Homo sapiens: one gene and its partner. The protein of the gene in region 1 purifies or fractionates together with the protein of each later gene. This does not show direct contact. Each region holds a gene or a part of one and is shown in the gene's direction. Other genes may lie near its edges.

Region 1 (3,816 bases):
ACACTACTTTAAGAGAAAATGGCTCAAAGACCCTATCACCCAGCAAAATTGAATTGAAGCCTGTGAGATCTGACTCACCATTCCAAGCAGAGGGAGATATGCTGGTTTCTGAAAGTTGCCAAGATAATAATGTGAATATCAAATCCAAATTCATGAATTTGTCCCAAAAAGGCACCCCAAAGGAAGGCCCAGGTATATTGCAACCATTTGAAAGCTATGGCACCCCAAGTCAAGGGAGTAAAAATATGGACTATAGCCAAGATTCAAAAAGCCCAGGAAAAGGGAATGGGGCATCTCCTTCAAATAGTAACTATTCCTACAGTGTTCTCAAGGAATCTGATGCAGAAAACCAAGTTCCATGCAACACTAATAATATTGGCAACTTGGGTGAAGAAGAACCCAAGTTTCATGCTCATGAAGAAAATAGAGGACACTCAGAAGTGAATTTTGACTCTTCAACAGTTGTCAAAGAACCAGGTTTGAAAGATAACATGAATGCAGAGAGAAAGAGCAAAGTAGGAAATACCTATATCCTGAAAGCCTCCTTAGAGCCAGAGAATATTAAGTCAACACCTGGGGTTGCCAACAATGGCTCTCCTTGGAAGAAGCCTGAGGTCCAATTCCAGCAAGAAGCTGGTGAGGTTCCCAAGAACCAAGTGCAGAGAGAGAAATACAAAAGAGTGAGTGACAGAATATCCTTTTGGGAAGGAGAGAAAGCTGGTGCTAAGATAACTCATGAAAAACCCACATCTTCATGTAGCCAGGAACAACCTTCTGCTAAAGCATATCAGCCTGTGAAGAAGTCACAGGGTGTATCATCCATGGACAGTTTATCTACAGACCAGAGTGAATATAATCAGGCCATTCCCAAACGAGTGGTCTTAGATGAGGATGATCAAGCATCCCAGCTCTCCAATTCTTATTCCTCAAATAAATCTAAAGAGACCAAGCCACAAATAGCAGGTCCATCCAGATACTATCTTTCAGCTGAGCAATCAGATAAAGTGTCTCTGTTTCAGAATAAGAAAAATGAGCCTATAAAAAGATCACAAGTGGCAGACAGTTTGCCTTCTAGAAGAAACATTACTTTACCAGCACTGCAACCTCCCTCAAATGTCGGGAGTGAACGACATGCTCCATTGGAGAAAGACAGACCTCTAGTTCGTGAATCAAATGCCAACTTTAAAGTTATGTCCCTAAAAGAAAGAATGGATGAACCCAATGCAGAACAGGTCTATAATCCCTCTCAGTTTGAGAATTTGAGAAAGTTTTGGGACTTAGAAGCTAATTCAAACAGTAAGGATAATGACAAGAATATTACCACCACAAGCCAAAAAAATTCTGCACCTTTTAATAGGCAGAAACACAAGGAATTCAGCGACATTAAATTATCAGGTAAAAATACCCATGAAGCAGAGGTGCTTCTAAGCCCAAAAAAAGTTATGGCAAGAGAGGAAATGGAGAAATTAAATTCAAAGGGCATACTCCAGGTGCTACCAGATGAAATCACATTTCCTTTGAGTCCACTTAGAAAGTATACTTATCAGTTGCCAGGAAATGAGTCATCAAAGGAAAATGTGGAAAAGAATACGGAAGGGATTGTTACTCCAGTGTTTAAGGAAGAAAAGGATTACTCAGAACAAGAGATTCAAGAATCCATAATAAAAACCAATGTTTTGTCTAAAGACTGCAAAGACACTTTTAATGACAGCTTGCAGAAACTGCTTTCAGAAACCTCAACACCAGCAATTCAACCCTCTGGTGGAAAAGTTCATGGAAAACAAGTGCTTGAACCAAGTGTTTCTGAAAATAGGACATGGCCTCAAAAAACAGATTTTGCTGATACTGAGGAAGAAGTCAAAGGACCTGAGAAGATCATTAATGAGCATGTTGACAAAACAGTAGTTCATCCAAAGGTTAAACGGAACTCTTTGACTGCTAGTCTAGACAAACTCCTGAAGGAAGCAACTGGAACTTCACCCTCTCCCTTGCAAGCCAAGTTGGCGCCTGTTATCACTGGAACCAACTCTAAGCTGGAAGAGGGGAGATTTTTTGGAAAAGGGATAGAACAGAGTCACAATACTTCAGCTGATAAGAGAGAAATACTAGCTCCTTTTCCAGTGAGAGATGAAACTTTTGGAAATACAGCTCTCCTCAAGAAAGCTGAAAGTGGTGAGTGCCAGCTAAGCACACAGAATTTGATTCAGATGGCTGCAGAAGATTCTCATCCATTGGATCCAACTTCCCAGCTTTCCAGAAAGGGTTCTTTTGGGGATGTGGCCAGCCCTCCCCAAGATATGCTTTTTCCCCAGGATGCTCATCTTGTTCCCCAGGCTAGGGTACACCCTTCTCAAACGGAAATTTCGGAGACTGTAGAGAAAGTCATTCTTCCACCCAGACCTGTATTGAATGATGTAAGTGCTGCATTACAGAAGCTGTGTGGAGAAGTATGGTTAAGTTATCCAGCTGGAAGGGAAGTAGGTCCTGGAGAAGTGAACCCAGAATTTCCTGAAGCAGTACAGCCAGTATGTAGCCCCCTAAATCCTCCAGGAGTGATATCACCATGGGCTACGATGGACACCATAGTTCCAGACAGGAAGGATTTTTATTCCTCCAATGTAGTTCCTGATAAAACTCATGAAGTTGGATCTTATTTAGCTGCCCAAATGTCTCCATCAGACCAGACGCTTAGCTCATTTGCTTCCATTGTTGCTCAATATGGCAAAGGCCTCCCTCAGGAAGTGGAAGAAATTGTGAGGGAAACAATTGTTCAACCCAAATCAGAGTTCCTCGAATTCAGTGCTGGCTTAGAAAAACTACTGAAGGAAGAAACTGAAACCTTCCCCTCAAAATATGAAAGTGATACAGGGAATCTTTCTCCATCAAAGTTAATAGGTAGTACAGAGGAGCCCAGGCGAGCCACTTCTGAATGCCATCCTGAGGAATTAAAAGAAACAGTAGAAAAGGCCGAGGCTCCGTTAATAACTGAGAGTGCTTTTGATGCTGGTTTTGAGAAACTTCTTAAAGAAATAACTGAAGCTCCTCCTTATCAGCCCCAGGTGTCAGTGAGAGAAGAAACTCACGAGAAGGAGTCCTCACAGTCAGAGCAGACCAGGTTCTTGGGGACAGTGCCCCATTTTTACAGGGCAGCCTCACAGACCTCTGAAATGAAGGATAAAAGTAATGGTTTGGAATCTCAAGTCAACCAATGTGATAAAATGTTGGGAGGAGACGCACTTGTGACTGATTTATTGGTAGATTTTTGTGGTTCCAGAAGTGGAGTTGAGATCCCTAGAACCCCACAACTTTATGTGGCTCATGAAATAGGGACCATTAAAACTGTAACCCCCCCAGAGGACAGGGACAGTGAAAGTGGGGTTGCAGGGGGACAAGGGACTCTTCAGGAACCTGGCTTTGGAGAGGCTTCTGAAGCAATTAGTGTGTCCAGAAATAGGCAACCCATTCCTCTCCTGATGAACAAAGAAAACTCTACAAAAACAAGTAAAGTTGAATTGACTCTAGCATCGCCATATATGAAACAAGAGAAAGAGGAAGAAAAAGAAGGTTTCTCTGAGTCTGATTTTTCAGATGGAAACACCAGTTCTAATGCAGAGAGCTGGAGAAATCCTTCCAGTGAGCATTTAAAATTTTTTAACTCACAGTGAGTCTGCTTTATGGAATGCTGATGTAAAGGATGATTTTTTTTAATTGGGATTAATTTGATATTCTTAAATGATGTTAAATTCTTCTTACCACTTCTGTGTTCCTGAGACTTTCTTAATTAAAAAAATTATTTATATTTTTTAATCAAATGCA
Region 2 (3,816 bases), on another chromosome or scaffold:
AGCTGTTGCTGGCAGAGGAGGGGCGGCTCCTGGGCACTGCTTGCCAATGGCCTCTCGGCAGCTCTGTGACAGCTGAGCTTTGTTCCCAGCCTAATCTGACCTGGTTCTCCAAAGCATGACTGTTGGCAGCCTGAAAACCTCCAGGACAGGAAACAGGAGTGGCGCAGGGAATGTAAGATGATCCCAGCTTCAAGTCACTGGGCGGCCCTTAGACCCAGGCTGCCTGCTGTCTCTGGCAGGAACTCAAGTCGCTGGTCATCCTCAGAGCGGTGTTGGCCCGGGGCCTTCAGTGGCCTTTGTGTCTGGGTGAGAGGAACCCTGGATGGCCACTCTGCCCTGAGTGTGTGGGTCCCCAGAAGTGCTGGGTTAGGGGGCACGGAGGGCCAGAAAGTCCCCTTTGGAGCGCTGGACTCTCTCGCTGACTCCTACCCCACCCCGGCCTGGGGTTTCAGAGAAGGGGTCCAGGCAGGAGTGTCATCTTTTCTCAATGGGGATGTGGCTTCAGTCTCTGTCCAGGTGGGTGCATTGCTCTCTTTCCGGCTCCTCCCAGGCTGCTTAAATGACCTGTGACGAGGCCTGCGCCATGGCCGGGGCCCTCTGCTTTTCCCAGCGCTGCACCTGGGAACCAGGGGTTGGGCCCCGGAAGCCGAGGATGTCCCTGAATGCCATGCCTGGGCACCTGTCCTGGCCAGGCGAGGCGTGTTGGGGCAGCGGCTGAGATGGGAGCAGCAGCATTGCCTGCCAGGTTTGAGATGGGCCCCGGGTGAGTGTGGTTACCAGGAAGGGCTGGGCAGAGCAGGCGGGTGGGCCGCCCCTGGGGCCTTGTTCCGCAGATCAACCTGATCCGCACCCTGGGGCCGGGGCTTCCTTTCACAGCCTTCCCATGAACTATGGCTCCTGTTTCCATCCCAAATCAGATCCCAGAAGAGGAATAATGTCCATGTAACCCAAGCCAGTTGGAAGTGGGTTACATCCAACCCCTGTCATCTTCCAGCTTGTTAAGGACTTGACTAACTCAACCCAGAGGGATTTGGAGGGTTGTCTGCAAAACCCACTAATAACAGGGAACTTTAGCTCTGTAGCCACAGGGTCTACAGAGGTGTCGGGCTGTCGGGTTATTGCTGGGAGGTGAGCCGGTGGCGTAGACACCATGGAGGCACCGGTAGTGGAAGAGCTGCAAGTGCACACAGAGGCCGGCACCGAGGGGCGGGGAGGAGGAGGTGGTGGATTTCTCGCCAGTGTTGGCATCATGTTGCCTCCAGCATCAGAGACCCAAGGTGTGGCTGACCTTGGCTGGGGCGATGAGTCATTGGATAGCAGAGCCTTCCTGGTAGCTGGGGGTTAACGCTTTAACTGCCGGGACTTTGTATTATGCCGCTTCTTTTTTTTGTTTTGTTTGGTTTGGTTTGGTTTGGTTTTTGAGACGGAGTCTCACTCTGTCACCCAGGCTGGAGTGTGGTGGCTCAATCTTGGCTCACTGCAACCTCTGCCTCCTGGGTTCAAGCAATTCTCCTGCCTCAGCCTCCTGAATAGCTGGGATTACAGGCACGCGCCACCATGCCTGGCTAATTTTTGTATTTTTAGTAGAGATGGGGTTTCGCCATGTTGGCCGGGTTGGTTTCAAACTCCTGACCTCAGGTGATCCACCTGCCCCGGCCTCCCAAAGTGCTGGGATTACAGGCATGAGCTACCGCGCCCAGCTTGCATTTATGCTTTTTTTTTTTTTTTTTTGAGATGGAGTTTCGCTCTTGTTGCCCAGGCTGGAGTGCAAAGGCGCGATCTCAGCTCACTGCAACCTCCACCTCCCGGGTTCAAGCGATTCTCTTGCCTCAGCCTCCCAAGTAGCTGGGATTACAGGCCTGCGTCACCATGCCCGGCTAATTTTGTATTTTTAGTACAGACGGGGTGTCCCCATGTTGGTCAGGCTGGTCTCGAACTCCCGACCTCAGGTGATCCGCCCGCCTTGGCCTCCCAAAGTGCTGGGATTACAGGCGTGAGCCACCGCACCCGGCCTATGCTTTTTATTATTATTATTTAATTTTTTAAGGAAAGCAATCTAAACTGTACACTGTATCTTTTCTTTCTCTTTTGCTTTTTGTTGTCAGTTTTCTGTATTACTTATTGCCAAACAACATGAACAGGAAATTGAAAGGAAAACTTCAACAATCATTGGCTGTAGCATTTCTTCTGTGTTCCATTCAGTGCTTGTCTCCTCAGGAACATGACATAGGGTTTGATTTAATTATGAAAGGCGTATATTTTCAGAGTTTTATACTCCCCATAGAATGAATGTTGAATTCTGTTCTTTTCACTTGAAATTAGATCTCAGGCATGGATTTCATGATTATCACTATAATGGCTCTTCAGAGTGGACATTGCATCTTGTAGGGAACCACCCTCTCCCCAGCTGCTGGTGTGGACGCTCCTCCTTGATGGTGTGGGTCTGGGCCCCTGAAGGGTGGTGTCCTGAGTAAAGATGTTACAGTAGCCATGCTTATAGCTTTGGGCCTGGGGCTAGGTGGAGACTGGCTTCAACCCTAGAGCTTGCTGTCTTAAAATAAATTCTTTTTTTTTTTTTTTTGAGATGGAGTCTCGCTCTGTTGCCCAGGCTGGAGTGCAGTGGCGCGATCTCCGCTCACTGCAAGCTCCGCCTCCCGGGTTCACACCATTCTCCTGCCTCAGCATCCCGCATAGCTGGGACTACAGGCACCCGCCCCCACGCCCGGCTAATTTTTTGTATTTTTTTAGTAGAGGCGGGGTTTCACCATGTTAGCCAGGATGGTCTCAATCTTCTGACCTCGTGATCCACTCGCCTCAGCCTCCAAAGTGCTGGGATAAAATAAATTCTTAGGGCCGGGAGCGGTGGCTCACACCTGTAATCCCAGCACTTTGAGAGGCCGAGGCGGGCAGATCACAAGGTCAGAAGATCGAGACCATGGTGAAACCCCGTCTCTACTAAAAATACAAAAAATTAGCTGGGTGCAGTGGCGGGCGCCTGTAGTCCCAGCTACTCGGGAGGCTGAGGCAGGAGAATGGCATGAACCCGGAAGGCGGAGCTTGCAGTGAGCCGAGATTGCGCCAGTGCACTCCAGCCTGGGCGACAGAGTGAGACCCTGTCTCATAAATAAATAAATAAATAAATAAATAAATAAATTCTTATACCCACTTGCATTATTTATTATTATTATTATTAAACAGGGTCTTGCTGTGTTGCCCAGGTTGGAGTGCAGTGGCGTGATCATGACCTCCCAGTCTCGACCTCCCAGTTTCAATTGGTCCTCCCTTCTCAGCCTCCTGAGTAGCTGGGACTACAGGTGTGCGCTGCATGCCTGGCTAATTTTTTTTTTTTTTTTTTTTTTGAGACAGAGTCTTACTCTGTTGCCCAGGCTGGAGTGCCGTGGTGCAATCTCGGCTCACTGCAACCCCCGGCTCCTGGATTAAAGCAATTCTCCTGCCTCAGCCTCCTGAATAGCTGCGATTACAGGCATGTGCCGCCACACCTGGCTAATTTTTGTATTTTTAGTAGGGACGGGGTTTCACCATGTTGGTCAGGCTGGTCTCAAACTCCTGACCTCGTGATCCACCTGCCTTGGCCTCCCAAAGTGCTGGGATTACAGGTGGGAGCCACCGCGCCTGGCATGCCTGGCTAATTTTTAAAAAATTTTTGTAGCAGCCGGGCGCGGTGGCTCATGCCTGTAATCCTAGCACTTTGGGAGGCCAAGGAGGTCGGGAGTTCGAGACCAGCCTGACCAACATGGAGAAACCCTGTCTCTACTAAAACTACAAAATTAGCTGGGCATGGTGGCACATGCCTGT

Evidence for each region.
Region 2: the proteins of SYTL2 (region 1) and SEPTIN9 fractionate together in Homo sapiens (co-fractionation; one large-scale study listed by BioGRID). This does not show direct contact.

What each region holds. Positions count from the first base shown.
Region 1 is NC_000011.10:85,723,849-85,727,664, reverse strand, and holds part of SYTL2 (synaptotagmin-like protein 2), read left to right. Parts: coding exon 1-3,633; intron 3,634-3,816.
Region 2 is NC_000017.11:77,287,695-77,291,510, forward strand, and holds part of SEPTIN9 (septin-9), read left to right. Parts: intron 1-240; exon of another isoform or gene 241-516; intron 517-3,816.